Regions from separate parts of the Homo sapiens genome. Here regions 1, 2, 4, 5, 6 and 7 are each reported to be linked to region 3. Evidence: microRNA targets listed by miRTarBase, many of them from high-throughput screens and not tested one by one. Region 3 holds a microRNA gene; each other region holds the end of a gene's coding sequence. Distances are between the middles of the regions.
Evidence for each region. Region 3 holds the annotated microRNA hsa-miR-6867-5p (UGUGUGUGUAGAGGAAGAAGGGA, at 1,828-1,850, opposite strand). A microRNA usually pairs through its seed, bases 2 to 8, with sites in the 3' UTR of a target mRNA and lowers its output. Matches are read on the target gene's strand: a 7mer-m8 pairs with bases 2 to 8, a 7mer-A1 pairs with bases 2 to 7 and ends in A, and an 8mer does both.

Region 1 (4,139 bases), 1.5 Mb from region 3:
GAAATAAGGGACCATCTGTAAATCCACCCTTCCCATTGCCCCGCCTCCCAGTCCCCCACATTCCCAGCCTGGAGCCCCGAGCTGGCCAGGGTCATGGTGTCCTCCGCTTCCCTCCCCCAGGTGGAGGTTCTGTACGAGGACGAGCCACTGAAGGAATACTACACCCTCATGGACATCGCCTACATCTACCCCTGGCGGCGGGTGAGCCAGCGAGTGGGGCGGGCAGGGAGCAGACTCCCACAGGGTCTGGCATAGGTCTGTGGCCACATGGGCCACCCTTCTGTAATCAGAGACAGTCTGTCCCTTATCCCATGAGCTGCATGTCCAGGGTGGCTTGCTACAGCAGGTCAGCCTCTGGGCCATCTCTTGCGGATGACTTTCCGCTCAGGAGACAAGGCTCCCTGGGCAGACGGTGTCCCCAGATTTGGGGGCAGAAATAGGTGCTGGCAGCTGCCGTGTGTTTGCCTCCCTCTCTCCCGTCTCCTCTCTGACGGAGTCTCTGCTCTTAGACCTTTTCCCTCTCTGGGTCTTCATGCACCCTGTATCCTTGTCTCTCTCCTCTCCAAGGCCCCATCCCATCCCTTTTTTCGAGTTTGGACACTGTGGGGTGGAGATGGTGGCCCTTTAGTTGGACTCTGTCTCCTGATACCTTCCCCTTCCCTGTGTCTCTCCTCCCCACTCTCCCCGCAGAACGGGCCTCTCCCCCTCAAGTACCGTGTCCAGCCAGCCTGCAAGCGGCTCACCCTAGCCACGGTGCCCACCCCCTCCGAGGGCACCAACACCAGCGGGGCGTCCGAGTGTGAGTCAGTCAGCGACAAGGCTCCCAGCCCTGCCACCCTGCCAGCCACCTCCTCCTCCCTGCCCAGCCCAGCCACCCCATCCCATGGCTCTCCCAGTTCCCATGGGCCTCCAGCCACCCACCCTACCTCCCCCACTCCCCCTTCGACAGCCAGTGGGGCCACCACAGCTGCCAACGGGGGTAGCTTGAACTGCCTGCAGACACCATCCTCCACCAGCAGGGGGCGCAAGATGACTGTCAACGGCGCTCCCGTGCCCCCCTTAACTTGAGGCCAGGGACCCTCTCCCTTCTTCCAGCCAAGCCTCTCCACTCCTTCCACTTTTTCTGGGCCCTTTTTTCCACCTCTTCTACTTTCCCCAGCTCTTCCCACCTTGGGGGTGGGGGGCGGGTTTTATAAATAAATATATATATATATGTACATAGGAAAAACCAAATATACATACTTATTTTCTATGGACCAACCAGATTAATTTAAATGCCACAGGAAACAAACTTTATGTGTGTGTGTATGTGTGGAAAATGGTGTTCATTTTTTTTGGGGGGGGTCTTGTGTAATTTGCTGTTTTTGGGGGTGCCTGGAGATGAACTGGATGGGCCACTGGAGTCTCAATAAAGCTCTGCACCATCCTCGCTGTTTCCCAAGGCAGGTGGTGTGTTGGGGGCCCCTTCAGACCCAAAGCTTTAGGCATGATTCCAACTGGCTGCATATAGGAGTCAGTTAGAATCGTTTCTTTCTCTCCCCGTTTCTCTCCCCATCTTGGCTGCTGTCCTGCCTCTGACCAGTGGCCGCCCCCCACGTTGTTGAATGTCCAGAAATTGCTAAGAACAGTGCCTTTTACAAATGCAGTTTATCCCTGGTTCTGAGGAGCAAGTGCAGGGTGGAGGTGGCACCTGCATCACCTCCTCCTCTTGCAGTGGAAACTTTGTGCAAAGAATAGATAGTTCTGCCTCTTTTTTTTTTTTTCCTGTGTGTGTGGCCTTTGCATCATTTATCTTGTGGAAAAGAAGATTCAGGCCCTGAGAGGTCTCAGCTCTTGGAGGAGGGCTAAGGCTTTAGCATTGTGAAGCGCTGCACCCCCACCAACCTTACCCTCACCGGGGAACCCTCACTAGCAGGACTGGTGGTGGAGTCTCACCTGGGGCCTAGAGTGGAAGTGGGGGTGGGTTAACCTCACACAAGCACAGATCCCAGACTTTGCCAGAGGCAAACAGCCTTCCAATTGCCCCTCCACCCCCAGCTGAGGCCCGGTCACCTGGTCAGGACAGAGCAACTGCATCTAAAAGCACAAGAAGACAGAAACCTGTAAGCTCTGACCCCACCCCCACCCCTTGAGAGGTCAGCGGACCACCTCCTTAGGGACAGACCCTGGCAGGTCGCTGCCCACCGAGATTTCCTCAAGTGTGCATAGATCTGAGAGGAGTCGGGAGTCGAGACTCGAGATTCCATCATAGCGTAGGTGTGTGGGGTTGGGAGCCCCCTGATGGGCTTGTCTGTGTTTGCACCTTGTCCTGTGTCTGAGGTCCTGTGACTGTACCCTCCTTTGCCCTGGGACATCTGTATCTCTTGGCTTTGTAATAAATGCTGCATACTTTCTGGAGCCTGTAGTTCTTTGGGGTGGAGGGAAGAAGGGAAGGGTGCCTCTCATCTCTGGGTTTAGCCTGGCTTGGGGACCCCATACAGAATGAATCTGAACTGCCCTCTCCTGTGGCTGGTCAGGTGCCCCCAGCCCACAGAGAGGTTAAAATCTGGAGCAGGAGGCAGCACGTGGGCCTCATAGCAGTGACTGCAGGACTACCAGTCTGGTTGGGCAGGCTTGTTTTTGCCATCTTCCCCATCAGCAAACATTGAACCAGGGCCCACTCCCGCCTGCCCCAGACTGGAGACTTTTAGGTTATAAGGAATAATTCTTCCTTCATGAGCCAGCAGTGGGTACCAGAGTCTCTTGGGCTCAGCACCTGTTTCCTTTCCCACAGAAGGGGGTGCCTGTCAGAGGCCTGGAGCCAAGGCCACCTGTGGCTGGACAGCAGCAGCCCCCTCAGAGTGGGGAGCCCACTTCTGCCTTCTGCACGCGCTCACTCCTGTGGGTGCCATCGCAGTACGGGGGCCTCTGAGTGGCCTTGCAGGTACAGAGTGCCACCATGCGGGTCTCTTGGGCCTTGAACTTGAGTGGAGATAGGCCAGTGCGTTGGAAGAAGTGGGAGCCGTCACAGAAGGGCTGGTGGGGGAAAGACAGGAGTCAAAGACCTGACCCCACCTGCTGGGGCAGGGCAGGGCAGGCTGCAGGAGCTCAGGGGGAGTGGAGCACAGTGGTTAGGGTACAGGCTCCAGAGCAAGACTGCCAAGGCTCACTGAGTGACCTCTCTTATCTGTAATGTGGGGGTGATAAGAGTAGAGTTGTATGAGGAAATAAAATATGATCGTGATGCACTTTGCCTATAGTAAGTGTCTGGTAAGTATTTACAGAGTCTTTATAGCATTAGTCTCTGGGACACCCAGAGGGCCAGGACACTAATAGAGTGTGAGTGTGTGTGTGTGTGTGTGTGTGTGTGTGTCTCTGAGTCTCCACTGGATCATGAAATTCATTTACTTCCCATGTTCCTGGGTTAAAACTTCTTTGGGCTGGAGAGTACACTGTGGTAGCAATTTTGTTTGGCTCCAGGGAATAACTGGGCACGTGACAGGGAGTGAAGGTTACAAGGAGGAGGGGATGCCCCATAGCAAACTGGCTGGCTGGCACAGAAGTGTACTCCCCATCCCAGAAGCCGCTCAAGCAGAGACTGGGTAATGGAAACAGGCCCAGAAAGGTGACATGCCTTGCTAGCTGAAGGCAGAGCTGGTGCCAAGGCCTTTTTTTTTGACAGGGTCTCACTCTGTTGCCCAGGCTGGAGTGCAGTGATGCAAACACGGCTCACTGTAGCCTCAACCTCCTGGGGTCAAGCGGTCCTCCTTCCTCAGCCTCCAGTATGGCTGGGAACACAGGCCTGCCTCCATGCTAGTCTTTGGTGGGGGTAGAGGCATTTGTAGAAGCGGGGTCTCAACTTTGTTGCCCAGACTGTTCTTGAACTCCTGGACTCAAAAGAGCCTCCTGCCTTGGCCTCGCAAAGTGCTGGGATTACAGGTGAGCCACCTCGCCTGGCTGAACCAAGGCCTCTTGACATTGGAGTTAGGGTGGGATGGAAAGGAGATGAGAGAAGCGTGCAAATAGAAACCAGCAACTTGTCTTAGAGGGCTTGAGGTGCATGGACCTAAGTGGGACTCAAGGACCCTGGGCTGCTGACACCATGCCACATAGCTTGAAGGAATACCAGTCAGAGCTCTGCTCAGGAAGGAAAGGGGCCA
Region 2 (4,423 bases), not on the chromosome of region 3:
CTGAGTTTGGTGGTGTGCACCTGTAGTCCAAGCTACTGGGGAGGCTGACGTGGGGGGATCATTTGAGCCCAGGACTTCAAGGCTACAGTGAACATAGTCCCACCACTGTACTTCAGCCTAGGCAACAGAGTAAGACTTTGTCTCAAAAAAATAAAATAAAATAATTGTATCTGCCTGACAACATTCCTTCACCCACATTCAGTCAATGTTAAGGCTAGGTACCATGTGCTAGGAACCTGCAAGGCACTGAGACACGCAGAATCCTTGCAGCTTCCAATCTGGTGTAGAAGACAGATGTTAGACAAATAAATTAGATAATAAGATCATTTCAGAGAGTGGTATGTTCTGAGAGAGAATAAAATAGGGTTTGGGATGGGGGGTTGGGGGAAGGATAGCATTAGGAGATATATCTAATGTTACATGACGAGTTAATGGGTGCAGCACACCAACATGGCACATGTATACATATGTAACAAACCTGCACATTGCTCACATGTACCCTAGAACTTAAAAGTATAATAAAAAAAAAAGAAGAAAATAAAACAGGGTGGTGAACCTAGATGGTAACTGGGGAGGGAGCTAAAGTGAGGTAGAATTAGTACCCCCTAGGTACTAAGTACATTATAAGCATGAACTCACTTTATCTTGGGAACAACCCTCTGAGATAAGTTTGTCATTTCCATTTTAAAGATAAAGAAACCAAAGCGCAAAGAGATGATAAGTAATTTGTCCAAGATTTCACAAAGCTAGAAAGTCATGTAACTGGGTATCGAACCCGGGCATCTGACTGGAGACCATTCTCTTACCCAGCACTGAGGAATGAGATATATTAATTTAGCCCAACACCTAGCACAGAGTAAGTGCTACATAAATGGCCATTGTTGCTGTTGACATTACAGAGCTTCAATAGGCTGCCACGTCTTTCTGTTTTTCTCCAGGGACCAAAGCGGATGTTGGATGCTCAAGTGCAAACAGACCCAGTATCCATCGGACCAGTTGGCAAATCCAAGTAAACAAATCAGCACGGTTCCCACCAGGTTCTCCTGCCACCAAGATGTGTTCTCCTTACTCCATCTCCTCCCCAAACACGCTCCATGTATATATTCTTCTGATGGCCAGCAAATGAAATTCTGCCTAGAAATTAAGCCCGAGCTGTTGTATATTGAGGTGTATTATTTACGTCTCTGGTCCAGTCTTTTCTGGCAAATAACAGTAAAGATGGTTTAGCAGGTCACCTAGTTGGGTCAGAAGAGTCGATGATCACCAAGCAGGAAAGGGAGGGAATAGAGGAATGTGTTCGGGTTAAGTGATGAAAATGGCAGTGGTGGCCGGGCGTGGTGGCTCTCGCCTGTAATCTCAGCACTTTGGGAGGCCGAGGCAGGTGGATCACCTGAGGTCAGGAGTTCAAGACTAGCCTGGCCAACATCATGAAACCCCGTCTCTACTAAAAATACAAAAATTAGCCAGGCATGGTGGCACACACCTGTAGTCCCAGCTACTCGGGAGCCCAACGCACGAGAACCGCTTGTACCCAGGAGGTGGAGGTTGCAGTGAGCCGAAGTTGCACCATTGCACTCCACCCTGGGCGACAGAGCAAGATTCTATCAAAAAAAAAAAAAGGCAGTGGCAAGTAAGTTATAGAAGAGAAATGCTGCTAGAAGGAATTAAGCGTTGTAGTAAATGCGTGCTTATCCTCTAAGCTTGAAGAAGGGAGACGAAAATCCATTTGTTTAAATTCACATCTCAAGGAGGGAGAACCCGGGCTGTGTTGGGTGGTTGCCAATTTCCTAGAACGGAATGTGTGGGGTATAGAAAAAGGAATGAATAAGCGTTGTTTTTCAAATAGGGTCCTTGTAAGTTATTGATGAGAGGGAAAAGATTGACTGGGGAGGGCTTAAAATGATTTGGGAAAACAATTGCTTTTGAGGCTCAGTGACAACGGCAAAGATTACAACTTAAAAAAAAAAAATAAATAAAAAATAAAGGAAGTTGCACGGTTATTTTGCAACACAAGGGGGCGGCAAGGTCCCCATTTTTATCCTGTAATACTGTATCCCTAACAAAGATTTGGTCTCTGCTATCTTACATTATTAATGTTTCTCAGATGGCTGAGGGGCTCGCTTCATCTGTTCCGTCTGACACTTATCTCAAGTGTGTCTGTCATTCCTAATGTTCTCAGGATGTGCTCTGATAAAACCCTCCCCATAACCTCAGTTAATAAAAATTTACAGAAGACTTCTCAAATACCTGAGTTGTTTTTAATACCTGTACAAAGGAGTAAATAGGACCCTGAGTCTATTAAAATGTAATTCAAAGTAGCATATGATTGACTGACAGTCATGTAAACTGTATCTTTCTTTTTCTGATTTAATAAAAAATACATTTACTTCTAAAGTATCTTTTAATTTTCAACTTCAAAGCAGTCCCACTCTATATCTGAGATGACTCTAACTTCTACATTATAAAATCCATACTCTTTCTCCATTATCTTCTTTGGAAGATCATTCTCTCCCAGATCTTCCCGGATTTCCTTGTATATGGGCACACACACACACAAATGTGTGCAGTTGTATGTTTGCATGTACACACACATGCATGTATAGAATAGTGCTGTCTTAGGCCAGGTTGCTTGGAGCAGAGCCTGAGATGGGGATTTGGACGCATAGGATATACTGAGAGTGGGCTCCGAGGGAAAGGGAGTAAGAGAAAAAGAAGAGGGCAAGAAAAGAGTTGGGCAAGGGTTGGTTTCAACTGGAGCATGAATTGCACCACCCAGATAGTTTGACCTTGAGTCAAGGGAGCCAGCCTTTGAACCCTGGTAGGTGAATTCTGGGCTGCCCTGGGAGGTGGGGGGATGGGCAAGCGGCCCCCATTGAGCTGAGAAGCTGGGATGCCTAAGTAACTGGAGGATGAGTGCATTGACAGTGTCCACTACAGATACACACCTATATGTTCAGATACATATTTATACCCATATTTGCATATATATGCACATATTCATATATATAAATATATATCATGCAGGAATAGATCCATGCACTCACACAGTCATATTTACATACATGCAAATAAACACATGTAACTAACACAGATCCACACACACACATTGGCTCACACAAATCTATCTCATATGCAATTCATCACACATTGATCGGAGATAAACATTGAATATACTCTCCTGATGTGGATGGACCTCGACTCTAAGGACAAGTTTGCTGCTTAGGCAAATTACACCACGGCTTTGGCAAATAGGCATTTGGAAAATGTGTTCAGAAAAATATGGTATCACTCAAAACCCAAGCGTAAGTGAGGAGGGGATCCTGAGCTGCTGGGGCCTATTAGCTCCCAGCTTGGACAGGTCAAATTCGTGTTTCCAATAAAGACCAGAGGTCTTTTCCTTGCAGCTGGGTTAGTTTTTTCAAACCTCCTGACCATACCTCGAGATTACTCACACCTGTGCCTCACCCAGTTGAGAACTATCTCGTGCCGCTTAGTATCAGAATGCTTAACTTGGCATGAAGCAGGAAAACAGCACTTGGGGAAGCCATTGGTGGGAGGCCCATCACTGCCATCGTCAGAGCACGGGGTGATTCAAGGAAACCAGGCAGCTGCTATTCCTTTGTCTCCAAACACCGTGGGGGTTGTCTGCTGCAACCTTTGGTGAGCTCCTGAGCTGCAGTCCATTGAGGAAGGTGACAGTATCATTTGCAAGTTTCACCTCGCTGGGTACAGGGGCTTTTTGCCCAGATAAGAAATGCCCCTAGGCAGGAGGAAGAGAAACAGACTGAGTAGCCCAGGCCAGTTACTTAGCCAGTTACTAAGGCAGATGGAGCCCTCCCAAGCCCCCACTCAAACAAAACAAAACAAAATAAAACAAAAAAAAAGCCTCTTTGCTGAGAATCTCTCTGCAAAGCATGCCAACAGTTTTTATAACTGGTTTCCTATGCTCCTGGGCCAAAAAAGAGAATAGTCTTTTAATGAAATTGCTTTTTTTTAAAAAAGCAAGAAATGCCAGAGAGAAGTAAAGCGCATGACTTACTGGGAGAACTCTAAATTCAGTTATGGCTTAAGAAACAAGTTAATACTCCATTTTTGTGTTTGTGTGTGTGTGTGTGTGTTATTGTTGTTGAGATCCCATTTCCAATGCATTTACAATAAATACTAATGCCCACCCCTTATGCAGAACTAGAGTGAAAAAGAGCTGAAACTCACCAATAAACCCAAGAAAGCCTTTAGGACACAGATTCCCAGAAATGCCATCAGACAGAACAAGCAGTGGGGGAAATAAGCAAAGCAAAGGTGGCACACAGAAAAACATGATTAAAAGAGAAAGAAGAATTAAGACCTGGGGGAGGGAGCAAAAATGACTTTCTTATTATTATTATTTATTTACTTATTATTTATTTTTAGGTACACAGGGAAG
Region 3 (4,423 bases):
TGGTGGCAGCTGGAGTTCCAAGGCTGTTGGAAGGGGTCAGGAGGAAGGCTGGGAAGCCAGGGGCTGCAGGGAGAGGAGAGTGCATCAGCAGTAGCAGGGAGGGGGCAGGGAGCAGAAGGGGGCCCATGGGACACTGTCAGGGCAAGAGGGCATGGGACACAGCACCTCCTATGTCCATAGAGGATTTTTGCTGCAGGAACAAGACAGATCACTGTATAAAAGGGTCTGTACAACATTACCTATGATACAATGTTCACATATGATACAAGGCTCTTTCCCTCTTTGAGTTTTAAAAAATAAATGTACAATTCCAGAGCTTTGGGTAAAAAATATATACACCCTCATAGCAGGAGCAGCAGCTGCTTTTGCTACGGCTGTTGCTGTCTCTTCAAAAGGGAAAGAGGTGGTGCCAGAAAGAAGGGTGAGTCTGTGCCAGGAAACCTCACCCAGTAGCTGCCAGGAGCCCCTGCACCCCTCAGGCCTTGAGGCTGGTGATGGGAGAGGGAGGGGAGTAAAGGTAATAAAGGCCTTGCCAGAGTCCAGTGGCGCCTTTACAGTCTCTGCCATCCCCCTCCCCCACTTTGGGGCTGCCTGCCCCAGGTATAGGGATCCACCCCACCCCAGCTCTATGGGGAGGACAAAGGGAGAGTCAAAGAGAGAGGGACAGAGACCATGTTGTTGGTGTCAGACACATGAGCCAGAAGGGGGATGTCAACTCCCTCCTTAGCAGTTAGATATCCCAAAAAGCAGGAGTGTGGGCAGCAGACAACCCTAGCTCCTGATACTGCTCTACCCGAGCCCACTGCAAGGCAGGGGGAGGGTCCTCTAGGCAGCTGAGGCCTGTGTTTCCCTGAGCATCTTTTACCCTCTCATCAGAGCCCATCCCTGGACCTTCCAGAGGCCTGAGTGGGGGACTTGCAAGGGCTGATGGGTAACCCCTCCCACCTGCTGCTACTCCCTGCCCCAAAAAGCAGCTTGGCTCACAAGCCTGGGCATGCAGGGCAGCACGAGGAGCTGAGCAGGGAGTGTGGGGGTGGAGAAAGCACCCCGCACCATCCAGGGGCAGAGTAGACAAGGGTAGCACCAAACAGAAGGACCCCTCCCCAGCACACACAACATCCACCCTCAATTACCAGATGCACTCCTGCTCCCTAAAAGAAGACACACACACACACACACACACACACACACACACACACACACACACACACACACACACGGCAACATAATATTCCTGGGGGTCCCAGCCCTGACCAGGAAGAAGCTGGACAGGTGGTGGAGAAGAAGGCTGCCAATCCCTCCCACAATCCCACTCTGCAAGACAGAAGGGTGAGCAGCATTCTTTCCTGCTGCAAGAGGAAGTTGGAAGCTCCATCCCCAGAACAGATCTCGATGGGAGGACATAGAGGAAGGAGCTTTCTATCCCCTTTCTCAGAGGGGACAGGAACCAGCAAAGTGTAGTTTTGGCTTGAAGGAGCAATGGGGAGGGGACTTCAGCAGGATGAACAGACTTATGGGTCCAGGGGTAAATCCATCGACCTCTTTCCCGTGGAGCAGGAAGTTGCTCCACGGGAAAGATGTCAGATGTTGGTTGAGACATCGTGCAAAGTGCTTGAGTGCCAGGTGCCCAAGGATCTGGCGGGTCTGACTGGAGCCTCCACTCTCACTGACTGTTTGCCTCCAGCTTGTAGGAGAGCTCGAAGAGGAGGTTCTGGTTGTCGATGACCTGAAACTGGCGCACATAGGCCTTGGTCTGCAGGTGATTGGGGGATGCCTCCATGTCCAGGCCTAGTGGGTAAAGAGGGAGAGGCAGTCAGGTTCCCAGCTTCCCTTCTTCCTCTACACACACACCGGGCAGAAGATCAGGCTGTGGACTGAGACAGATGTTGGGCAGGAAGGCCTCTGCAGAGGCAAGGAGAGAATGGGGAACCAGCAAGTGTATGGAAATACACATCTGGACAGGGAGTTCTCCCCTGAACCCTCCCGTTCAGTCAAAGCTCTATCTGTACTGCTCTCAGTACCCTGGGTACTCACAAAGGGGCCGGCTCCGGTATTTGCGGATTGTCCTCACTTTTTCGGCCACTGAATGCTGGGAGATGACAAGGAATGAGCCTTGAAAGGGGCACAGAAAGAGGCTCCCCCTCTTATGCTCCCCCTCCGCCATTCTCCCACTCTGCTTTACTCCCTCCAGTCTCCAATTCTGGAGGGTCTCTGAAGGACCAAAGGAGTGGGTGTAACAGAGTGCCATGTGAGGGGGAGGTGAAGTTGCCCCCAAGCTGCCTGTCAGCTCTGCCACCTGTGGGTGGGTTGCCACAGTGATGCCACCAGGGAGACAGTCAAGAGTCTGTTAGGCAAGCTGGGCACTTGGAGGAAGGCTGCTATTTTTGGGAGGTGATGAGAGAGGGAGAGGATGCAAGCCCCCCACTTGTGGGACTAGGGGTTTGCAGTGCCACTCACTCACCAGCTTCTCGATGTTCACCAAACCATCTACAAGGGTCTTACTCCCTTCGTGCAGGAAAGTCAGGTCTAGGGGATGTGGAGAGAATCCAATGTGAGGAAAGGATAAGAGAGGAGTTCGAAAGGGGCCACTGCACCCGAGGACCCCGCTCTTCCCCAGAACCCACTCCGTCTGTGGTGGGGGGCTCCTCTCCAGGTGGGTACTCAGGGCTGAGTCGAGAGGGAGCTGGAAGTCAGAAGCAGGGCATAGGAGAAGGGAAGCATGGGTGGAAGCGGCACAGCTTGGGAGTAACTCTCTCACCTTTGAGGATCAGAGGCACGAAGGGAATCACAGGGGGCTTCATTTTGGAGATCACTTCTCGGTAGCTTTTGTGGTTCCTGCAGGGGTCCTAGTATTCCACAGGAGAGAGATCAAGGGACAGACTGGCCAATGCATCCCAAAGATGTCCTCAGCTTCCTCCCTCACCCCCTGCCTTGTATACATTCCTGATCAGATAGGGGTGCTGGGGGCTTTCTAATGGTGTGGTGGGGAGGGACCTGACTACTCCCCCTTTCCTTCAAGAAAAACAGGGGCGCAATCCTTCCAACCTCACCCTCCAGCATGGTAAGGAGGGTGGGGGGTCCCATACACTAAACACCTTGAAAGGAAAGCTTGAGGAAGGGGGTTTATGGGAACAGAGGGTTTCTGGGCTCTCAGTCCAAGAGCAGAAGAAAGAGCCAAACCCACTCACCGTCAGGTTCTCAAATTTGCGAAACAAGTTCTTGAATTTCCCTGGCAGCTTCTGCAGAGTTTGAAGGAAGGAGAAGGGATATCAGAGTGGAGCTCCTTGGGTTACATGGGAGCCTCGGATTAATTCTCCCTGTTGGAGGGCAAAAGGGCCTGCATGGCTTGTAGGGGGCTGGGAAGCTGGTGGGTGGGGAAATGAAGTCAGGCCTTGGCTAAGTCTAGAGGCTTGAAACAGCCCAGAGGAATTCATTATTCTGGGGAAGGCCAGGTCTGTCTTATGCAGGTGCTTTGTATAAAGATGCCCCCACTGAGTGTGGATGAAAATCAGCCCAACTCCCACAGCCAAGTCTGCGACCTGACCTGGCCAAGGGCTGCCTGCCGTGACTCAGGCGGGATCCGGGCTTTTCACTAATTTGCACAAAGACAGGGTCCATTAGCCAAGCTGTGCGCCCTGGGGTTGCGTATGCCAGAAGAGGGCGCCTCCCTCCAACTGGCGCAAAGACTCCCTCCAGGCCGGCGGCCGTCCCGGGAGGACGCACTTCGGGGAGCCCGGGATGCCCAGATTCCCAGGTAGGAACGGGAGGGGTCTCATCACCTCCCAGGTGAGTCGAAGGCGGCTGACAGCGGCGTTGTCCAGCCCCATGACCACGGCGTAGAAAGACAGCAGGTCCTGGTTCTGCTTGCAGCTGCGGGGGTGGGAGGCGGGGTCAGGGGCGGGCGGCGGCGCGGGCCTCCGGCCTCCGGCCCCCCATCCCGCCGACGGCCGCACTCACAGGGCCGCGATCTTGATGAACTTCTTGAGCAGCTGCGCGCGCTTGCCCGGGGCCTCGCAGAGCAGCACTTCGGTGGCCACCCAGTGCGTGACCTCGCTGCAGCGCTGCAGCAGCAGCTCCAAGTTGGCCGTCTCCCGGCGGCCGCGCTCCCCGTGGAACACGTAGTCCACGAACTCCAGCTGCACCCACGGCAGCGGAGGGGCGGCCAGGGCGCCAGGGGGTGAGGGGAGTGGGTGGGAAGATGGCAGTGCAAGGCGATGAGGAGCGAAAGGCAGGAGGGCGGGGGCGGAAGGGGTGGAAAATAGAAAAATAGAAAGGACAGGAGGCGGCAAAGATGCGGAAAAAGAAAACAACCAGCATTAATAATATTTCACCAGCTACTGAGCACTTACTAGGTGCCAGGCATTCGCTCACGGCTGACATCCTCAAGACAACCATCTGCTAGGCATTATTGTCTCTGCCTTAT
Region 4 (4,423 bases), not on the chromosome of region 3:
TTAGACTGCCTATTTTTTTTCCTCTTTTCTTCCCCCTTGGTTTTTGTGTGTGTGTATTCACCAATGCTTGGTTTCCAAATATTGTTTCTAAAGCATTTTTTTTCAGAGACTCAAAAGTAAAATGAAAGCAATCTCCGTATTGGGCAGCCCTCCTGGAGTAACTTTGAGCTGGAATGGGTCTAGGAGCCTGTGTTCTCTGTTTGTTCTCATGTGTTATGTTGATGGCATTCCCTTTTCGGCACATCTCCCTCCCCATATTCAAGTAACTCCTTGGTCTGAGCTTTTTGGCTGCTTTTTTCCCCTCTTGCTGTTGCAACCTCACCTTGTTGGTGACTCTACACTGCCACCATGTATTGTTTTAATTTTGAGCACAATGTGAATTCCTTCCAAATGTGACTGATATGCCCTCTTTTGGGGCTAAGAACCCATAGATCACATGCTCTTCTCCTCTGTGAAATGAAACCTCTGGTGCTTCTTTCTTTGCCACCTAATTTCCATGTTTCAATTTTGACCTAAAGCACTTAGTATAATAAGGCAGCTTGATACCTGTGTTGCATAGTCTGAGGTAACACATGGTATCACTTTTACATGACAGTCTAATGTCCCAAGAGATTGTTAATAAAAAGTCCTGCTATGCTGAAAGAAAAAGAGAGAGAGAAAAAAATAAACACAGATCCACTGGGCTCAGGGGAAGCTGAACCTGACCAGTGTGCAGAAAGAGGCAGAGACGTTCCATTTGTCTGGGAAGCACCATGCATACAACTGTTTGAGAGAAAGCACTGGACTAGTCATTCAGTAAAGAAAGCGTGTTACCTCCTGCCTGTAGCCTGAATAAAGCCATGATTGGTGTGTTGTAGGAAAAACGGATCGTGTCCCTGGATTCAGCCAACACCAGACTGATGAGCGCGCTGACCCAAGTGAAGGAGCGGTACAGCATGCAGGTCCGCAATGGCATCTCCCCCACCAACCCCACCAAGCTTTCCATCACGGAGAATGGTGAATTCAAAAACAGCAGCTGCTGACGGGCTTTGTCTGTGGAAGGAGACAGAAGGAAATTGACCCACTCTCCTATCTCCAGACCTTTACCTAGCCCCTCCAGGTTTACAGAATGTTGCTACTTCACAATGGCGATGTGGTGAGAAACTCCTGAATGAAGAAAGGAACCTTGTCTTTCAGGGCATAAGGCGGCGACTTCCAAGGTCAATGCTTTTCCCCCACATCTCTATGTACATAGGGAACTTAGTTCTGGGCCATGTACAGAAAATATCACTGTAATATACCAAAAGGAAGTTAATAATGTAGATTACCTTTTTGATTATTGCTATTTTTATTATTGTTTTCCTCTTGTTGAAAGCACTGCAGTTGTTACAGGAAGTAAAGTAGGAACTGTTGTGTGAGCGAGACATGAGCCTGTAGGTTCAGTAGGTAGAGACCAAGCATCTATCTGATAGAAGCACATGGAGTGCAATAGGACATTGTGAGAAGGAATTTTTCAGGGATTCATCTACTAGTTTAAAAACCCCACTCTGGCCCTCTTGTCCTTTCAGAAAACATGCAAATACCAAGATCCATACAAAACAATAATTTATTCCACTGATCAACCAAGACTGGTTCTGGTTGGACAGCTAATCTGATTTGGGGATTCACTGTTTCAGAGGACACAGACAAAAGCTGTTGCATCAAAACTGGACTTTAGGAGTAATTTCTATTGAACTCCTGTCAATATGTTTATTTCCTCTGTCTACAGCAGATGGGAGTCTTCTCTTTTAGACAGGGGCTTTTTGTTTTTAACCCCAATTGTAATAAAGGGTGTTCTTTTTCCTCTTTAGAGTTTACAAAACTATAAATATTTGTGTCTCCACATACCATCTTCATCTTCACACATTCACTGTGCTTTCCTCCCCATAGTGGGAGCTGTCATCACCAACAGGGTTTACTCTCCCCTGGAGAGGTTATTTAAATAGCTGTCCATAAGCCATCCAGATCAACACCCTTTCTTCCATACAGAAAAGGGCTAACCATACCACAGCTGGAATCTCTGAATATTTCCTATTAAAAATTTTTTCTATGTGTTGTTATAATTTTTGTTTGGGATAAAGACTCTATCCATTGTACTAGCAAATCTATGGGGGGTAATTTTATCTCCATCTTTAACTTTTAAAGTACTTCTTCCCCTTATCCCCTCAATAAAGAAAGGAAATCCAAATTTGAAGCATCACTCTCTTAAAAGAAAAAGAAAATAATGGAAAGTGTCAGGATGGCACATTCCAGTTATTATTCCAATGCTCGTAGATCTGACAATAATGACCCAATTTCAACACTTGTCATCCATAGCCTTATTATTATAGAACAGAAAAAGTCATGGAAACGAATTCATTTCCTTTTTTCCAGAGGTGTGCAATGTCATCTTGAATGCAACCTTGATTACCAGAAGTATGGAAGGTTACATGTTAAACAGACATTATATATACAAATATATATATAATATATATTCACACATATGTACATATAACTGCACAAATAGGAAAAGTTCATGCCTTCTATGCTGTTCAGATATAATGTTAAAAGGGTCTCAAACCTCTTTAAGCAAGATCTAAGTAGTTGTTTTATATTGAGAAAGCAACAATGTTTCTCGAATAAGTTGATGTTGATTTTAAATTATAAGCTTTAAAGAATTTTTTTTCTAGAAAAAGGGGATGGAAAAAAAAGGACCTGAGGGAGCCATATGCATCAAGTGAGTGTTTCTCCATAACAGAATATTTATAAGAGAACATGTATAGTGCCCTCTTTTGAGTGATGCCGACAGACACCAAGCCCTCCTTTTCACCAAGTCCCAGGCTTGCATTCCAGCCTCTTGAGCTCTGCCCTCTCTCAGGTGGATCTTTGTGTTGGACCTTACGTTTCAGCAACCTCACCATGGCCACATAACCCACAACCTTTTAAAACAGTTTCTTTCATAGCAATCCCTGTTTCTGCCAGACAGATCTAAAATGGGAGTTTCTCACTGTGTTTATCTGATCTGCACACTTTATATCCAGCTGTTTTGGCACTTTTACGTTTTCTTCACCTTTGGTTTTGGTTTGCAAATTCTTACACCTTCTCTCCAAGCGGAGGGCACACTGTGGTCAAAATCACTTATTTTATTAGGAAAAAGAGGTAACTGTTCCAAAGTGTAGTGTCCTTTGTTGAAGGAGGAGGGATGTAAGCATAGATTTGTTCTTGTTTCTGGCTATTCTCAGCTCAAGCCATGTTTAATTCATTCTTTGTAAAAGCCTTCAATTGTGCCACAGAAAACCTGGTAAGAGAATTGTCAGTTTCATTGGCCATAAGTATGTAATGTGGGTGATGTCTTGCCATTGAGGTTTGGAAGCTCTTAAGTGCCGATTATGGATTACAGAGGGCTGATAAAATTACTTATATTGGGAATTGAGAGAAGCCCCAAAAAATCAAATGTGCTTTTGATGGATAGAGTGTATCTTATTAGCATTATGGGAGCTCCTTAGAGGGCTGTCTTCACTGAAAGATTTAATGCCCAAAACATTTGGACAGATTATGCAGCCTTCTACTACCAGGTTATCTTGAATGAAGAAGAAATAGTAAAAAATAATAATAATAGAGCATTACCAATAAGCTAAAAGTTCAGAGTTGCTGATAGATGTTAAATGTTAAGTTATCCTGTGAGCCTACTCCTGTCCAACCTTTTTTCTCAGTATTTCTTTAGAGAATGCTGCAATCTGTATAAGTTACTCTGAAGGATTTTTTAAGAAGAGAAGCCACCAACAGGTGATAATTTTTATGGAGATGTTTCTTAATTGGCTTTCCCTCAGTTCAAGTAGGTAAATAACTTTGTTTGCTGGGAGGAGGTACATGGCTGAAGAGAGGCAAATAGATTAAGATAGCAATGTCTTGCACTTCCTGTTTCCCTCAAAACAACACCACATTGTGGGGCGCAGGATAGATCAGGGTTGAGTGGAATTTGGAATTCAGGTGAAGTGCTTGTAAAGTGCATGTCTAGCTGACAACAGACTTGACCATTAATGAGGACAGTGTTGGTAGGAGTCAGAAAAGAGCTTCATATTCCCCTTTTATATTACTGAAGCAATAAGCAATCTGAGCTGAAGCAGCAAAAAGAGTCACATTTCCATCAGGTCATCATATTCCCTGAGTCTCTGCAGCAAAAGCCATGTCAGAGGGGAGATTATAACTAGGTAACTATAACAAGCACTTGAGCACTTACCATGTTCCAAGCACTATCACCAAGGTACTGTTGGGGTTTATGGCAGTCTAACGGTAAGAAAAATGTGGTAAAATGAGGTAATCATGCTGCTATAGCTTTTTGCTTTTTTTCATATAGTATCAAGTTGGTCAGAATTAGCTTTCTCTGACTGGTCTGCTTCCGTGTTTCTCTGTGATGGTGTTAAGA
Region 5 (4,423 bases), not on the chromosome of region 3:
TGCCTAACATCTGGGAAGGCAACCCGGTAGGTCTCAGCCTTATTTTACTCAGCCTCTATACAAGATGGAGTCCATCTGGTTTAAACACCTCTGACACACATACCCAAGGAAGTCAGAAGAGGCTTCAGAGCTCCTCTCCACCCTCCTGTTACAGTCTCACCAGTGCACCACAATGTAGCAGTCTCTCATTGTTTGAGGTATCACTGGAGTTCTTTGTCTCACAACAATGAAAATTAAGGAGCGTGGACACCAAGGATGAGGTTGGAGTGAAAGTTTAATGAGTGAGAGAAGAAAGCTCTCTGCTGTGGAGAGGAGGCCTGAAAGAGGGTTGCCATTTTTACAGTTGAATGTAAAGGCTTTTATAAGAAACCGATGAGGACTGGGCAGCTCATCTGCATAAGGCATGAATTTCTGGTAGCTCCCTGCTGTCCTTCTAATGTACATGTGGGCCCTTGGCTTGAGTTACTTACTCCATATTGCTTTGTTCCCCTTACTGCACATGTCAGGGGATGAAATTTTCCATTGCAGGCATGTTTGGGCAAGTCACCTGTGTAGTCTGTCTTATCTATGAGGCTGTGGGCATGTCTTAGGCAAGCCCCCCTGTGCAAGTTCCCATATCTGTGCCTGCAGCTTGATTTTTCAGGCTGTTCTTTTGTTTAAAAGAATTCTACCGAGAACCCACCCTAACTGCCTGCCTGACTGGTTTCTTCCTTTCTCCTCTCTCACTCCTTCTCCAGATGAGGAAACAAGATCAGAGAGGGACAGTGACTTGCCAAGTTCACACTGAGATGAGTCCACCCTGTACCCTCCCCTCCTCAAAAGAGGACCTTACCAAAGGGACTGTCATCGGGGGCCCTCAACATCCATATAGTGATGACACTTGGGAAGAGATATGACAAAAGCAAGAAACAGAATCCTAAGGTCTTAAATGTAATGTTGGAAACAACATTAGAGCTGGAAAACAACTTAAGGAATAATGGTAATGAGGCATTTGCATCATTGTACAATGCTAATGTTATTTTATCTTGAAAACAATCTTGAGAAGTAGGAATTATTGTCCTCTTTCACAAGACAGGAAAAATGAGGCCAAGGGTTAGTGACTTGCTGAGGGTCACACAGTGACAGAGTGGTATCCTGGTCCCTGTCCCTGACTTCTTCCCTAGGGCTCCTCCTCCTGGGCATCTCACTCAGAGGAAGCAGGGCCATCAGTGGTACTGGTGCCAGCTCTTGGGGAGCTATTTTCCCCCAGGTGGGTTAAGTTCTCTCCTAGTATACAACAGGATGGTGGCTACACCGTCATGATAGGGAGAACAGCTATCTTAGGAGGCTGCTTGCTAGACAGAGATGGGTGTGTGTGCGTGTCTGTCTGTCTGTCTGTCTGTCTGTCTGTCTGTCTGTCCTGGGTCCAGAGCCGTCAATTCTTCAGCCTCAGTCTTCCCTCTATTGCCCTCTCCTGGACATAGGGAAGAAGTGCCTCCTCCCTGCTGTCCCCCAGGATTACTCCCTGCCTCTTCCACTCTCCCCACATCCATCCTGAAGTGGCCCCTCTGGCTGTCCACCAGGGTCCTGGCTGTGTCACTCTCTTGGCCATTGGAACGTCCCTGACCCAGGGTTCAATGCACAGTTGTCACATTTATCCCCAGGTGCTATTCCAGTCACTCCAGGTCAGTAGACACCTGTGTGTGTGTGTGTGTGTGTGTGTGTGTGTGTGTGTGTGTGTGTGTGTGTGTAGGGGAATCCAGGCTGCATTCTCCAGCCTTCATTGCTGGACGCCAAGCCAGTGCTCTGGACAATAGAGGCTGAGTCTGAGCCCTGAGTCAGTGGGTGGGAGGCAGATTCCTCGGGACATTGGGTCCCTGGCCAGAGGCTACTTGGGCTCCATTTTCCCTGTCCCCCTGCCTGGGCCAGTCCTCCAGGCCGTGGTCAGTTCCAAGTTACTGTCTTCACTGTGTCCCAAGTGTGTCTTCTCTCTCTATCCTGAGGGGTAGGAGGAGGGTTGCTCCACCCTTCCTCTGAGCCATGGTCTCCCCACCAGTGTCTGTGGGGTGAGCAGCCTCCATACAGAGCCAAGGTCTCAGCCACCCCAGGGTATGGACTTCCTGGAGGCTGCTGGGTCCCCTGTGGGAACTCAGACTTGGAGCCCAGGTGTAGAAGCTGGGGGAGAGAGCCCCAAGTCCAGCCTCTGCACTTCAGTCTTGGGAGAGGCTGACCCTGCAGCCCAGAGGCTCTTAGCTGCCTGGTCACAGCTTTCTAAGGAGGCAGCGGCCAGCAGGAGGCAGCAGTGAGAGCGTGGGCTCTGCGCGGTCCCAGGACAGGAGGGAGGAGCAGCCCCAGTCAGGGCAGGGCCATCCAGAGGCCCAGCAAAGGACACCTGTCCCGACAAGAGAAGCTGCCAACCCCTCTGTGGGTCCCCAGCTTTTAGTCACTGTTTCCTCTCCTCCAGGATGGGACATCACTGCCTCTGGCATTCGTGAGCCCGATTCTTTCTTCCCTAACCTTAGGGGAAGCTGAAGCAGAACGGAGGGAAGCAGAGGACACAGTGGCCCTGGTGGGGAGGGCAGCTCAGCCCAATAGGGTTTCTGAGGCAGACGGGAGCTGAGGTTCTCTGTAAACAGCACTCTCAGGGTTCCCCTGCCTCCACCAAGAGCCCTGGGGTCTGCAGCTCCGAGCAGAAACCACTGGTCACATTTCCTCGGGACTTTCTCCCTGATGCCCTTTGCTCTGGGCCCCTCCCCAGGTTCCTGCCCCCAAGGAGAACACTGGGCTGTGGGGCTGCTTAGGATGGCAGCCTCTGGGTTTGGGAAGTCCTGGGTGAGTCCAGCACTGCACAAGTCCTCCAGCTTCATAAGATCGATACTGGCCCCAATCTTCACCCCTCCTCTAACCCCCTGGGGCCACTCTGGGAGAAGCTCCCCACCCCATGCTTAAGTGGCCTCAGATCAAGTAGACTTCCACATAGGGCTCTGGTCTTCCAGGTGGGTCACGTGTAGAAGGATCGCTGCACATGCTGTAGCCTGCAAGAAACAGGGAGAGCTGAGGAAGTGTCCTGCCCTGCCCACGGTGCCCCGATGCTCCTCCACCAGCCCCAGCCCCTTTCTGGCTCTGCCTCTGGTTCCTTCCAGGTCATCCCCTTAGGGTTGTGCTGGGTGGTCTCCGCCTGGCCGCCCTCCTCCCCAGGTGGAAGCGTCATAGTCCTTTTGACTGGACACAGGCCAAGGGCCATACCACGTGGGGACTCGAGGTCATAACCCTTAGTGCAGTTACCCAGAGCTCTGCCCTCAGGAGGCTGGGAGGTGGGCTCTACTCACTTGCCATGTGTCTCTTCTTCCAAAACCCATAGACCATGATCAGCATCAGCACCAGGAGGGTCAGCACCACCCCAAGCACAGTGGAGTAAACATCCTGGTGCCTGAGAAGAAGGGACAGGGTGGAAGCGGGTGAGCACCAAGGTCCCCCATCCTAACCCACGTTGGGATCGGACCAGCAGCAGAAACCCTGAGAGCGTGCCCTTCCCGGGGTAGACGGCCACCCTCTTCCTTACAGACCCGGCCACAGAAGCAAGTGTGACATCCGGAGTTAAGAGGAGGACGTCCCCAGGTAGAGGGGAACATCTCTCTACTTTGGTACCTCTCCTCCATTATGCCCCCAAATCTGTTCATCAGTGAGGATGAGGATTCTAGGAGACTCCCATTTGTGGCTAAAGAGATCAAGATGCTTGCTCTCCTCAAGGGGTCTGAGGATGCCTGTTCCCCCACTCTATCCTCTGTAGCAGATGCTGTCGGGCCCCTGCCTGTGTCCTCTTGCCTGTGTCATTTCCACCTGCACACATCATCAGCACCTCCTTTTCTGTGGGTGGGAGGCTGAGGCCTTTCTCTTGTCACTAGAGCCCTCTATGCCACACACAGCAGGCAGCCCTCTACTGATAACCAATTGGAGTTGGTGTGTAACTATGCGGGCTCCTTTGCCCTTCAGATGTGTGTTTTATGCTAGATCTGACTCTCCCCGTTGGGATTAGGCTCTTGTTGTGCACAGCAGCTGCTTGGTTAAGTACTCTTTATTAGAGGCCTTCCCTGCCCTGTCCCACTCCCCCACCTTTTTTCCAGTGTTCATATAAGACGCAAATCCCTGACTCAGAGTCAGTTTCTCTAGAGGAATCCAAATTAAAGCATCCCCCATTTTCCACTTCCTACTCCATGAGGCGCATCCTTGCCCTATCCTCACCCTCTCCTCTCCATCCACAGACACTTCAGGACACCCATCCCCTGACATGCTCATCTCTGACTCTCATCCCCCCTGGCCCTAATTCTACCAACTCTCATTGCCCCCTACCCTCATCTCTGCAGCCCCCCTCTCCCCTGATACTCCTCCCACTGACCTTCTTCTCTGACTCTCCTCCCCCACAACCTTCATTTACCCCCATCCT
Region 6 (4,423 bases), not on the chromosome of region 3:
GAGATGGAGTCTTGCTCTTGTCGCCCAGGCTGGAGTGCGGTGGCACGATGTAGGCTCACTGCAACCTCTGCCTCTTGGGTTCAAGCGATAACCTGCCTCAGCCTCCCGAGTAGCTGGGATTACAGATGCCCGCCACCAGGCCCTCCTAATTTTTTTATATTTATTTATTTGTTGGTTTATGTGTTTATTTTTGAGACAGAGTCTCGCTCTGTTGCCTAGGCTAGAGTGCAGTGGCATGATCTTGGCTCACTGCAACCTCCACCTCCCGAGTTCACGTGATTCTCCTGTCTCAGCCTCCCAGGTAGCTGGGACTGCAGGCACCTGCCACCACGCCTAGCCAATTTTTGTATTTTTTAGTATGAGATTTCACCATATTGGCCACGCTGGTCTCAAACTCCTGACCTTGTGATCCACCCACCTTGGCCTCCCAAAGTGCTGTGATTACAGGCGTGAGCCACCACACCTGGTCATTTTTTTTTATATTTTTGGTAGAGACAGAGTTTCATCATGTTGGCCAGGCTGGTCTCGAACTCCTGACCTCAAGTGATCCACCCATCTTGGCCTCCCAAAGTGCTGGGATTACAGGCATGAGCCACCATCCCTGGCCATAAATGTTATTTTTAAAATACATAACTTTTGTCATCTGGATATTTCTATAGGACTCAGGCTGTTTTCTTCAGTCTCCTTTGTCTTTTCTCAAAGTCATTCACTTCATCTTCCTTCTCTCATTTTCTTCCCTAGTACGTCTTTGTACAAGTTATGACAAACATGTTAATAATATATTATATATATGAAGTATCCTTTCAAAGATTCTGGACATCACATACGCTTTCTATTTGTTGATTATATACAGAATAATATTATACATTTAATATGATAATTCTACATGATGGTATAATAATATATTTAATATATTACTGTTCACAGAATAAAATGCTGGAGACCCTAGGTTACCTAATGGAAGTCCTCGGCCCCCTAATGACTTTTTCCCTTCTCTGCAGGTGTCAAAGTCGTGTTCTCAGGCCACTACCACAGGAATGCCGGGGGTACCTACCAGAACCTCGACATGGTGGTGTCATCTGCCATTGGATGCCAGCTGGGCAGAGACCCCCACGGGCTCCGAGTCGTGGTGGTCACCGCCGAGAAAATTGTTCACCGATACTACAGTCTAGATGAGCTGAGTGAGAAAGGAATAGAAGACGATCTCATGGATTTGATCAAGAAAAAATGACGCTCCTTCCCGTTCCCGTTCACTTTTCACTTGCACTATTTTTTTATTTTGCCAGAAACAGCAGCTGCACACAACCTCTTGCTGAAATATAAAAATAGCCCAGGCAGGTTTGTGAATTTATGTCCTTTTGCATAAATCAGAGAGCTGGGGCCCTGTCCTGAATTATATTCAAAATAGAACTGCATTTCCTTTAAAATGGAGCGAATGATCCTGGAAATCAGTTTTTAAAATATTAGACTATCTCTGCATGGATGTTTGAATAAATTCTCCTAATGCTGTGTTTCTCAACTCCACTTTTGAATTGGATTGTATTCTGGTTAGCATATGGTCAAAGTCTGCCTATCGACCTCAATTCCAATCTGACAGCCAAGTATGATCTTTGATAATTCCTTAAACAAACTACACCTGATTGTATTAAATTGTGGTCACGATTCCCAAAACGCTAGGCAAAACAAAGTTCATCTCCTTTCCTTTCCAGCGGAACGAACAGCTGTCTCCCTTGTTGTGAGAGCCATGCAGACTTATTTTGACAAGGAGCCAAGTAGGCACCATTTACTGTTCAATTCTGAGACTTCTGATGATAGGAACAGAATGCAGTTGATACAGCTCGGAGCTTAAATTTGCCTTCCTGGGTGCCTAGAAAAGTCACCTTTGCACATAAATTGGCCATTTCTGAAAATCTCCTCCAAGAGACTGAAACCAAAGCTCTAAAACGCCGCTTCTTCAGTCTCTGGGGAGCACGTTGAGTTGGTTCACATCCACATTCTGGCTGTGTAGCCACTCCACAGATGGGTGGTCTCTTGGGATCAGAATGCCCCTCCACTCATGAGACTCTTCATTTTGTCCACTTTGACAGGAAAAGTGGGAATGTATGCAGAGCTCTCAAAAGAAACAAAAAAGGCCAAAACGGTGCCTTCAGCCACATCCTCTGAATTGGCCCTGACTTGGACTAAATGCACTAATGCAAAATCCCTTGACAAAAGCGCATAGGTTATTTCAAACCAGCATTGTTTTTTATGTAACCTGTTTTACCGCATCTTCTCAGCAGCTTCTGACCACTGCTCAATTTTCTCCTTTACAGCCATTGTTCTGGTGGACAAATAACCTAGGTACTCCAAATCCTGGCAGGAAAAATATACAGCATTATGAAACAGCACTCAGTAATCCTAAAATGATTTCCAAAGCTGGTTACACATGACCTGCAAAGTCTATTAAATTAAAAGACTTTCTCATTACAGAGTTTAGTCAACGTAGCAAAACCATGGGAAATTAAATGGAAAGATAATTAAATATGTAAATTCATAAGGAACAAAAGACGAGAAGTTAATTATACAATAGGCTGGTGACACCAGAGTTCATTGTTATGTGCCACAAGAAAATTAAATTTTTTAAAAAACTAGAACGCTCTTCTTTTAGTGTTTTGCTGAAATCCTGTTTTGTATTTGTTTCTTTACAACAGGTGTAGGTATAGGAGGTCAAGAAAAGGAGTTCGGTAAAGGGCATAGCTAATAACAACCACACATTGGGCCAGGCACAGTGGCTTACGCCTGTAATCCCAGCACTTTGGGAGGCTGAGACGGGCAGATCACCTGAGATCAGGAGTTTGAGAACAGCCTGGCCAACATGGTGAAACTCCATCTCTACTAAAAATACAAAAATTAGCCAGGCATGCTGGTGCACACCTGTAATCCCAGCTACTCGGGAGGCTGAGGCAGGAGATCGCTGGAACTCAGGAGGCAGAGGTTGCAGTGAGCCAAGATCATGCCACTGCACTCCAGCCTGGGCAACAGAGCAAGACTCTGTCTCAAAAAAAAAAAAAAAAAACCACACACACACACATTGAGACTTGAGATGTGGTGACACTTGGATCATAAACAGAGGGCTTCGATTCCAGGATGGGGGTTCCTCCAGGGGGAAATGAAAAGGAGCTCTCACTCTGTTCTTACGTATGCACAATGCTCTGAATTGTGGCACATGGGTTTGCAGAAGGATAATGGAGATAATTGAAAGTAATGAAAATGAAACCAAATCTCCTTCCCCAAAAACTTAAAAGAACTGATTCAAAAGTACCCCAAGAATATGCAAAGAAAAGGGAATCACATCAACAGATGATTGGATAAAGAACATGTGGTATGTATACATAATGGAATACTATTCAGCCACTAAAAAGAATGAAACCATGTCTTTTGCAGCAACCTGGATGGAACTGGAGGCTGTTATCTTAAGTGAAATAACTTAGAAGTAGAAAGTCGAATACTTCATGTTCTCACTCATAAATGGGAGCTACATAAAGTGTACCCATGAACATAGAGTGTGGAACAAACATTGGAGACTCAGAAGGGTGGGAGGAGGGTAAGGGATGAGAAAGTACCTGATGGGTACAGTGTACACTTTTCTGGTGTTGGTTGCAGGAAAAGCCTGGACTTCACCACTTCGCAATATATCCGTGTAACAAAACTGCACTTGTACGCCTTATATTTATACAAATTTAATTTTTTAAAAGGGAAGAGAGAATCATATTAATTTCTCACCACTTTTTAAGTAAGCAAACAGCAGTATTTCCCAGAGGCAAGAGGTTCAGCAAGAAGTCAGGAAATGTTTTTGTAGATAAGCATCTATCATTCTGATGGGCCATGACTAGTGTGTTCACTTGTAATTCCTTTGCCTTTAAAAAAAGAGAATGATATCAAAAAATAAGTGCCTTATACTGTGAAAAACGATAAAAGGACTTCCTGATTCTAAGTGCTATGGTTTTGAATGTTTATTATGTGTTTTAAGTGCTTTGGCTCAGAAAGGTGGGGGTCACGTGGCCAAGGTCGCCTAACTCATCTTGGTGGAGAAAGAACGGATGTAGATGGCCCAAGGCTTGAGTCCATGCTCCATAACACTGTCCTGTCTTGGAAAACGTTTCTCAGAGGTGAAAGGTTGCACCAGCTCAGCCAGTGGCAACACACTGAGTACGGTATTCAGCACCTTGGACAGCGTTAGCTGGAGGCCCAGGGATTTCCTCCCAGCTCTGCAAAGCCTAGACCAGACCCTGATTGCACCAGGTTCAGGGGGCAGAAGCTTGTCCAAAGAGCAGATGGTTCCAGGGGGAGGATTTTTACTGGGGGAGATTTAGAAACCGAACTGAACCATAATGAGTCACGGGACACAGCCCTGTCTGCAGCAGTAACTGTCCGCAGCTCTAGC
Region 7 (4,423 bases), not on the chromosome of region 3:
TCCTGTAATGTTACTTCTTTCATTCCCAGGAATCCAGCCGGCTGTCTTTGCTTTCCCATGTGCTACACTTATCACTGTGATGTTGGCCTTCATCATGTACATGACCCTGCGGAATGCCACTCAGCAAAAGGACATGGTGGAGGTGGGTACTCAGTGGGGTGGGGGCTGGACTACTGGGCCTTGCCTAGAGAGGATGTTTAGAGAGGGTATGGGGGCCAGGCCAGGATGCCTGGAGGGGGTCTTGATATTACAGCGAGGCTCCGGGACTTGGGGTGATGTGCCCAAGAGGCATCTGTAGACCAGGAAAAATTGCTAAGTTGGTGTCCCATCTGATTTATCTCCTATATCCATCTCTTGCATCTGTGTGGTGCCAGAAAGGTGTTTCTGTGCACTCTGCCACCAGGCAGCTGAGCTCATAAGGCCACCTGATGGGGCTCCTGGTGGGTGGGTGATTGACCCGTGGGATTTTGTTCATCATAGGTGGCTGATTTTGACTTTTCCCCCATGTCTGACAAGAACCCGGAGCCACCCTCTGGGGTCAGGTGCTGCTGCCAGATGTGCTGTGGGCCTTTCTTGCTGGAGACTCCATCTGAGTACCTGGAAATTGTTCGTGAGAACCACGGGCTGCTCCCGCCCCTCTATAAGTCTGTCAAAACTTACACCGTGTGAGCACTCCCCCTCCCCACCCCATCTCAGTGTTAACTGACTGCTGACTTGGAGTTTCCAGCAGGGTGGTGTGCACCACTGACCAGGAGGGGTTCATTTGCGTGGGGCTGTTGGCCTGGATCATCCATCCATCTGTACAGTTCAGCCACTGCCACAAGCCCCTCCCTCTCTGTCACCCCTGACCCCAGCCATTCACCCATCTGTACAGTCCAGCCACTGACATAAGCCCCACTCGGTTACCACCCCCTTGACCCCCTACCTTTGAAGAGGCTTCGTGCAGGACTTTGATGCTTGGGGTGTTCCGTGTTGACTCCCAGGTGGGCCTGGCTGCCCACTGCCCATTCCTCTCATATTGGCACATCTGCTGTCCATTGGGGGTTCTCAGTTTCCTCCCCCAGACAGCCCTACCTGTGCCAGAGAGCTAGAAAGAAGGTCATAAAGGGTTAAAAATCCATAACTAAAGGTTGTACACATAGATGGGCACACTCACAGAGAGAAGTGTGCATGTACACACACCACACACACACACACACACACACACACACACACACACAGAAATATAAACACATGCGTCACATGGGCATTTCAGATGATCAGCTCTGTATCTGGTTAAGTCGGTTGCTGGGATGCACCCTGCACTAGAGCTGAAAGGAAATTTGACCTCCAAGCAGCCCTGACAGGTTCTGGGCCCGGGCCCTCCCTTTGTGCTTTGTCTCTGCAGTTCTTGCGCCCTTTATAAGGCCATCCTAGTCCCTGCTGGCTGGCAGGGGGCTGGATGGGGGGCAGGACTAATACTGAGTGATTGCAGAGTGCTTTATAAATATCACCTTATTTTATCGAAACCCATCTGTGAAACTTTCACTGAGGAAAAGGCCTTGCAGCGGTAGAAGAGGTTGAGTCAAGGCCGGGCGCGGTGGCTCACGCCTGTAATCCCAGCACTTTGGGAGGCCGAGGCGGGTGGATCACGAGATCAGGAGATCGAGACCACCCTGGCTAACACGGTGAAACCCCGTCTCTACTAAAAAAATACAAAAAGTTAGCCGGGCGTGGTGGTGGGTGCCTGTAGTCCCAGCTACTCGGGAGGCTGAGGCAGGAGAATGGTGCGAACCCGGGAGGCGGAGCTTGCAGTGAGCCCAGATGGCGCCACTGCACTCCAGCCTGAGTGACAGAGCGAGACTCTGTCTCCAAAAAAAAAAAAAGAAGAGGTTGAGTCAGCAGGGACTTGGGTTCCCTGTGTGTGAGGGGGGCATTCTTGCCTGCCAGCTGCTCCCGAGGTGGCCTTGAGAAGGAAGAAGCAGGATGACAGAGCCTGAGCAGCGGAACCAGCCTGCACCCTCCCTTCTGGCCCAGCGACCTGGGCTGTGGCTGAGACAATAATGAGGCCAGAAGTAGCCGGAGCCTGTCAGGAAGGGCAGGGGAGGACTGTGGGGTCTGGGCTCTGTCGCTGTAACCATCTGCTCCCAGGCTGTGTGCAGAAAATGGCATTTACACTATTGTGCAGCTCATTCTCATGAAATACTGCCATTGTTGCTAAATAAAGCTTGTGTGCTCTGAATATAGCCAAGCATAGACGGTGTGGCCAGAGTCTCTCTTTTGTGCATGGACGTTTTTGCCTTGCAGACAGCAACGGCAGTGCTGTGACGCAGCAGGACATCCCACTTGTCCTCTGTGGTGAAGACAACTGAAGGGAGCCAGTTCAGGTCCCTGGAGGTGGGGAGAGCTGTCCCCAGGTGACTTGGACATGCATCCCTGTCTGAGACCTCAGGGGGATTCTAGAGCCAGAGGAGGAACGTGGACCACACCTGGGGACGTGTTGGAAATGCAGACCCTTGGGCTCGACCTGATACCTGAAGCAGTGCCTGGGTAGGGGGGCAGCCACCTGTTTTCACAAGCCCTCTGCGATTCTGGTGCATATCAGGTATGAGAACCACTAGTCTCTAGCAGGCTTCTTAAACTTTGAGGTTCATGAGAATTGCTAGAGATCTTGGTAAACAAGAATTTTCATTTTGGAGGTCTGGAGTGGGGCCTGGGATTCTGCGTTTCTTTTATTTCTTTTTATTAATTTATTTTGAGATGGAGTCTCACTCTGTCGCCAGGCTGGAGTGCGGTGGCGTGATCTCGGCTCACTGCAACCTCTGACTCCCTAGTTCAAGCAATTCTCCTGCCTCAGCCTCTCAAGTAGCGGGGATTACAAGCACGTGCCACCATGCCCGGCTAATTTTTGTATGTTTAGTAGAGATGGGGTTTCACCATCTTTGGCCAGGATGGTCTTGATCTCCTGACCTTGTGATCTGCCCTCCTCGGCCTCCCAAAGTGCTGGGATTACAGGTGTGAGCCACCACACCTGGCCTTATTTATTTTTATTTACTTATTATTTCTTTTAGACAGAGTCTCTCTGTCATCCAGGCTGGAGTGCAGTGGCACGATCATAGCTCACTGCAGCCTCGACCTCCTGGGCTCAAGTGATTCTCCCACCTCAGCCTCCTGAGTAGCTGGGACTATAGGTGCATGCCACCATCCATGGCTAATTTTCTGCTTATTTTTTGTAGAGATGAGGCTCCACTATCTTGCCCAGGCTGGTCTCAAACTCCTGAGCTCAAGTTATCCTCCTGCCTTGGCCTCCCAAAATGTTGGGGTTACAGGCGTGAGCCACCGCACCCAGCCCTGAGTTTTTTGTTTTGTTTTGTTGAGACAGAGTCTTGCTCCAAGGCTGGAGTGCAGTGGCACGATCTCGGCTGTCTACAATCTCTGCCTCCCGGGTTCAAGCGATTCTCCTGCCTCAGCCTCCTGAGTAGTTGAGACTACAGACACCCACCACCCCACCCGGCTAATTTTTGTATTTTTAGTAGAGATGGGGTTTCACCATGTTGGCAAGGCTGGTCTTGAACTCCTGACCTCGCATGATCCACCCGCCTCGGCCTCCCAAAGTGCTGGGATTACAGGTGTGAACCACCGCGCCTGGTCCCGTTGCTGTTGTTTTAAGCCACCTAGTTCGTGGTACTTTGTTTCGGCAGCCCCAGGAAACAGACTTCCCCACGTCATTTTCGGCAGCTCCGTCTCTCACATTTCATATCCATCCTGTGAGAAATCCTTCAACTGAGATCCAGAATCTGACCGCTGCTCCCTCCTCCCCTGCTGCCACCACCCTGGTCCCTGGCAGGGCTCTCATAATGCCTGGCAGCTCCTGCTCACCCCTCACTGAGCCAGAAGTTTGTCCACAAAACTGCTCCAAGACCACATCTTCCTCTGCCCCAAACCCTTCAGTGTCTCCCTTCTCAGAGCAAACCCCAAATCCTTCTGGTGGCCTCCCAAATCCCTGTCCAACCTGGCCTGTGACCTTGTCACCCCCAGCCCCTGCTGCTTGTCTGGCTGGGTCTTTCCCGAGTTGTTCCCTTTGCCGGGCAGGATGCTGTTTCCTGGACACGTGTGGGGTTCCCTCTCTGCTCCTTCACGGCTGTTCAAACATCACCTTCATCTGTGAGGTCAACTTGGCACTCTCCTCTCCTACCTGCCCTTATACTCATGGCATATGTCACCTTCTAACATACTATTTATTTATTTATTTATTTTTTTGAGATGGAGTCTTGCTCTGTCGCCCAGGCTGGAGTGCAGTGGTGCGATCTTGGCTCACTGCAACCTCTGCCTCTCAGAGTCAAGTGATTCTCCTGCCTCAGCCTCCCAAGTGGCTGGAATTACAGGCACCCACCACCAGGCCTGGCTAATTTTTTTGTAATTTTAGTAGAGACAGGGTTTTGCC

Region 1: miRTarBase lists CISD3 as a target of hsa-miR-6867-5p. Seed matches in the 3' UTR shown: 7mer-m8 at 2,257-2,263, 8mer at 1,768-1,775, 8mer at 1,766-1,773, 7mer-A1 at 1,301-1,307, 8mer at 1,299-1,306 and 8mer at 1,297-1,304.
Region 2: miRTarBase lists BCAS1 as a target of hsa-miR-6867-5p. Seed matches in the 3' UTR shown: 7mer-m8 at 1,477-1,483.
Region 4: miRTarBase lists RASAL2 as a target of hsa-miR-6867-5p. The part of its 3' UTR that is shown has no 7-base or 8-base seed match.
Region 5: miRTarBase lists TREML2 as a target of hsa-miR-6867-5p. Seed matches in the 3' UTR shown: 7mer-A1 at 1,724-1,730, 8mer at 1,722-1,729, 8mer at 1,720-1,727, 8mer at 1,718-1,725, 8mer at 1,716-1,723, 8mer at 1,714-1,721 and 20 more.
Region 6: miRTarBase lists CPPED1 as a target of hsa-miR-6867-5p. Seed matches in the 3' UTR shown: 8mer at 3,057-3,064, 8mer at 3,059-3,066, 8mer at 3,061-3,068 and 8mer at 3,063-3,070.
Region 7: the mRNA of TMEM130 is a reported target of hsa-miR-6867-5p. Seed matches in the 3' UTR shown: 7mer-A1 at 1,175-1,181, 7mer-m8 at 1,176-1,182, 8mer at 1,183-1,190, 8mer at 1,185-1,192, 8mer at 1,187-1,194, 8mer at 1,189-1,196 and 12 more.

The regions. Positions count from the first base shown.
Region 1 is chr17:38,732,152-38,736,290 of GRCh38, reverse strand. CISD3 (CDGSH iron sulfur domain 3) reads right to left here. Exons shown (of 4, transcript NM_001136498.2): 4 at 686-3,015. The coding sequence ends at 2,836. PCGF2 (polycomb group ring finger 2) reads left to right here. Exons shown (of 11, transcript NM_007144.3): 10 at 121-201; 11 at 691-2,393. The coding sequence ends at 1,068. Among named protein-coding and RNA genes, the nearest start is that of CISD3, 3.9 kb to the right of the region's middle. RefSeq lists an enhancer at 841-1,368.
Region 2 is chr20:53,941,512-53,945,934 of GRCh38, reverse strand. It overlaps BCAS1 (brain enriched myelin associated protein 1), which reads left to right. Exons shown (of 13, transcript NM_001366298.2): 13 at 939-2,394. The coding sequence ends at 1,013. It overlaps BCAS1-AS1 (BCAS1 antisense RNA 1), which reads right to left. Exons shown (of 5, transcript NR_199019.1): 5 at 2,354-3,760. Among named protein-coding and RNA genes, the nearest start is that of BCAS1-AS1, 28 kb to the right of the region's middle.
Region 3 is chr17:40,191,029-40,195,451 of GRCh38, reverse strand. It overlaps MIR6867 (microRNA 6867), which reads right to left and starts at 1,855; the gene lies at 1,789-1,855. RAPGEFL1 (Rap guanine nucleotide exchange factor like 1) reads right to left here. Exons shown (of 15, transcript NM_016339.6): 9 at 3,958-4,136; 10 at 3,780-3,870; 11 at 3,189-3,239; 12 at 2,759-2,846; 13 at 2,462-2,526; 14 at 2,035-2,089; 15 at 1-1,788. The coding sequence ends at 1,664. RefSeq lists enhancers at 835-884, 509-1,009, 3,711-3,790 and a silencer at 3,911-3,970.
Region 4 is chr1:178,472,218-178,476,640 of GRCh38, forward strand. RASAL2 (RAS protein activator like 2) reads left to right here. Exons shown (of 18, transcript NM_170692.4): 18 at 858-4,423. The coding sequence ends at 1,022. Among named protein-coding and RNA genes, the nearest start is that of CLEC20A, 23 kb to the right of the region's middle.
Region 5 is chr6:41,189,493-41,193,915 of GRCh38, forward strand. TREML2 (triggering receptor expressed on myeloid cells like 2) reads right to left here. Exons shown (of 5, transcript NM_024807.4): 4 at 3,309-3,409; 5 at 257-3,014. The coding sequence ends at 2,935. Among named protein-coding and RNA genes, the nearest start is that of TREML2, 9.4 kb to the right of the region's middle. RefSeq lists enhancers at 1,851-2,358, 1,977-2,046.
Region 6 is chr16:12,661,694-12,666,116 of GRCh38, reverse strand. CPPED1 (calcineurin like phosphoesterase domain containing 1) reads left to right here. Exons shown (of 4, transcript NM_018340.3): 4 at 1,002-4,423. The coding sequence ends at 1,231. Among named protein-coding and RNA genes, the nearest start is that of SNX29-AS3, 53 kb to the right of the region's middle.
Region 7 is chr7:98,844,302-98,848,724 of GRCh38, reverse strand. TMEM130 (transmembrane protein 130) reads left to right here. Exons shown (of 8, transcript NM_152913.3): 7 at 30-142; 8 at 517-2,235. The coding sequence ends at 669. Among named protein-coding and RNA genes, the nearest start is that of TMEM130, 24 kb to the left of the region's middle. RefSeq lists an enhancer at 10-1,209.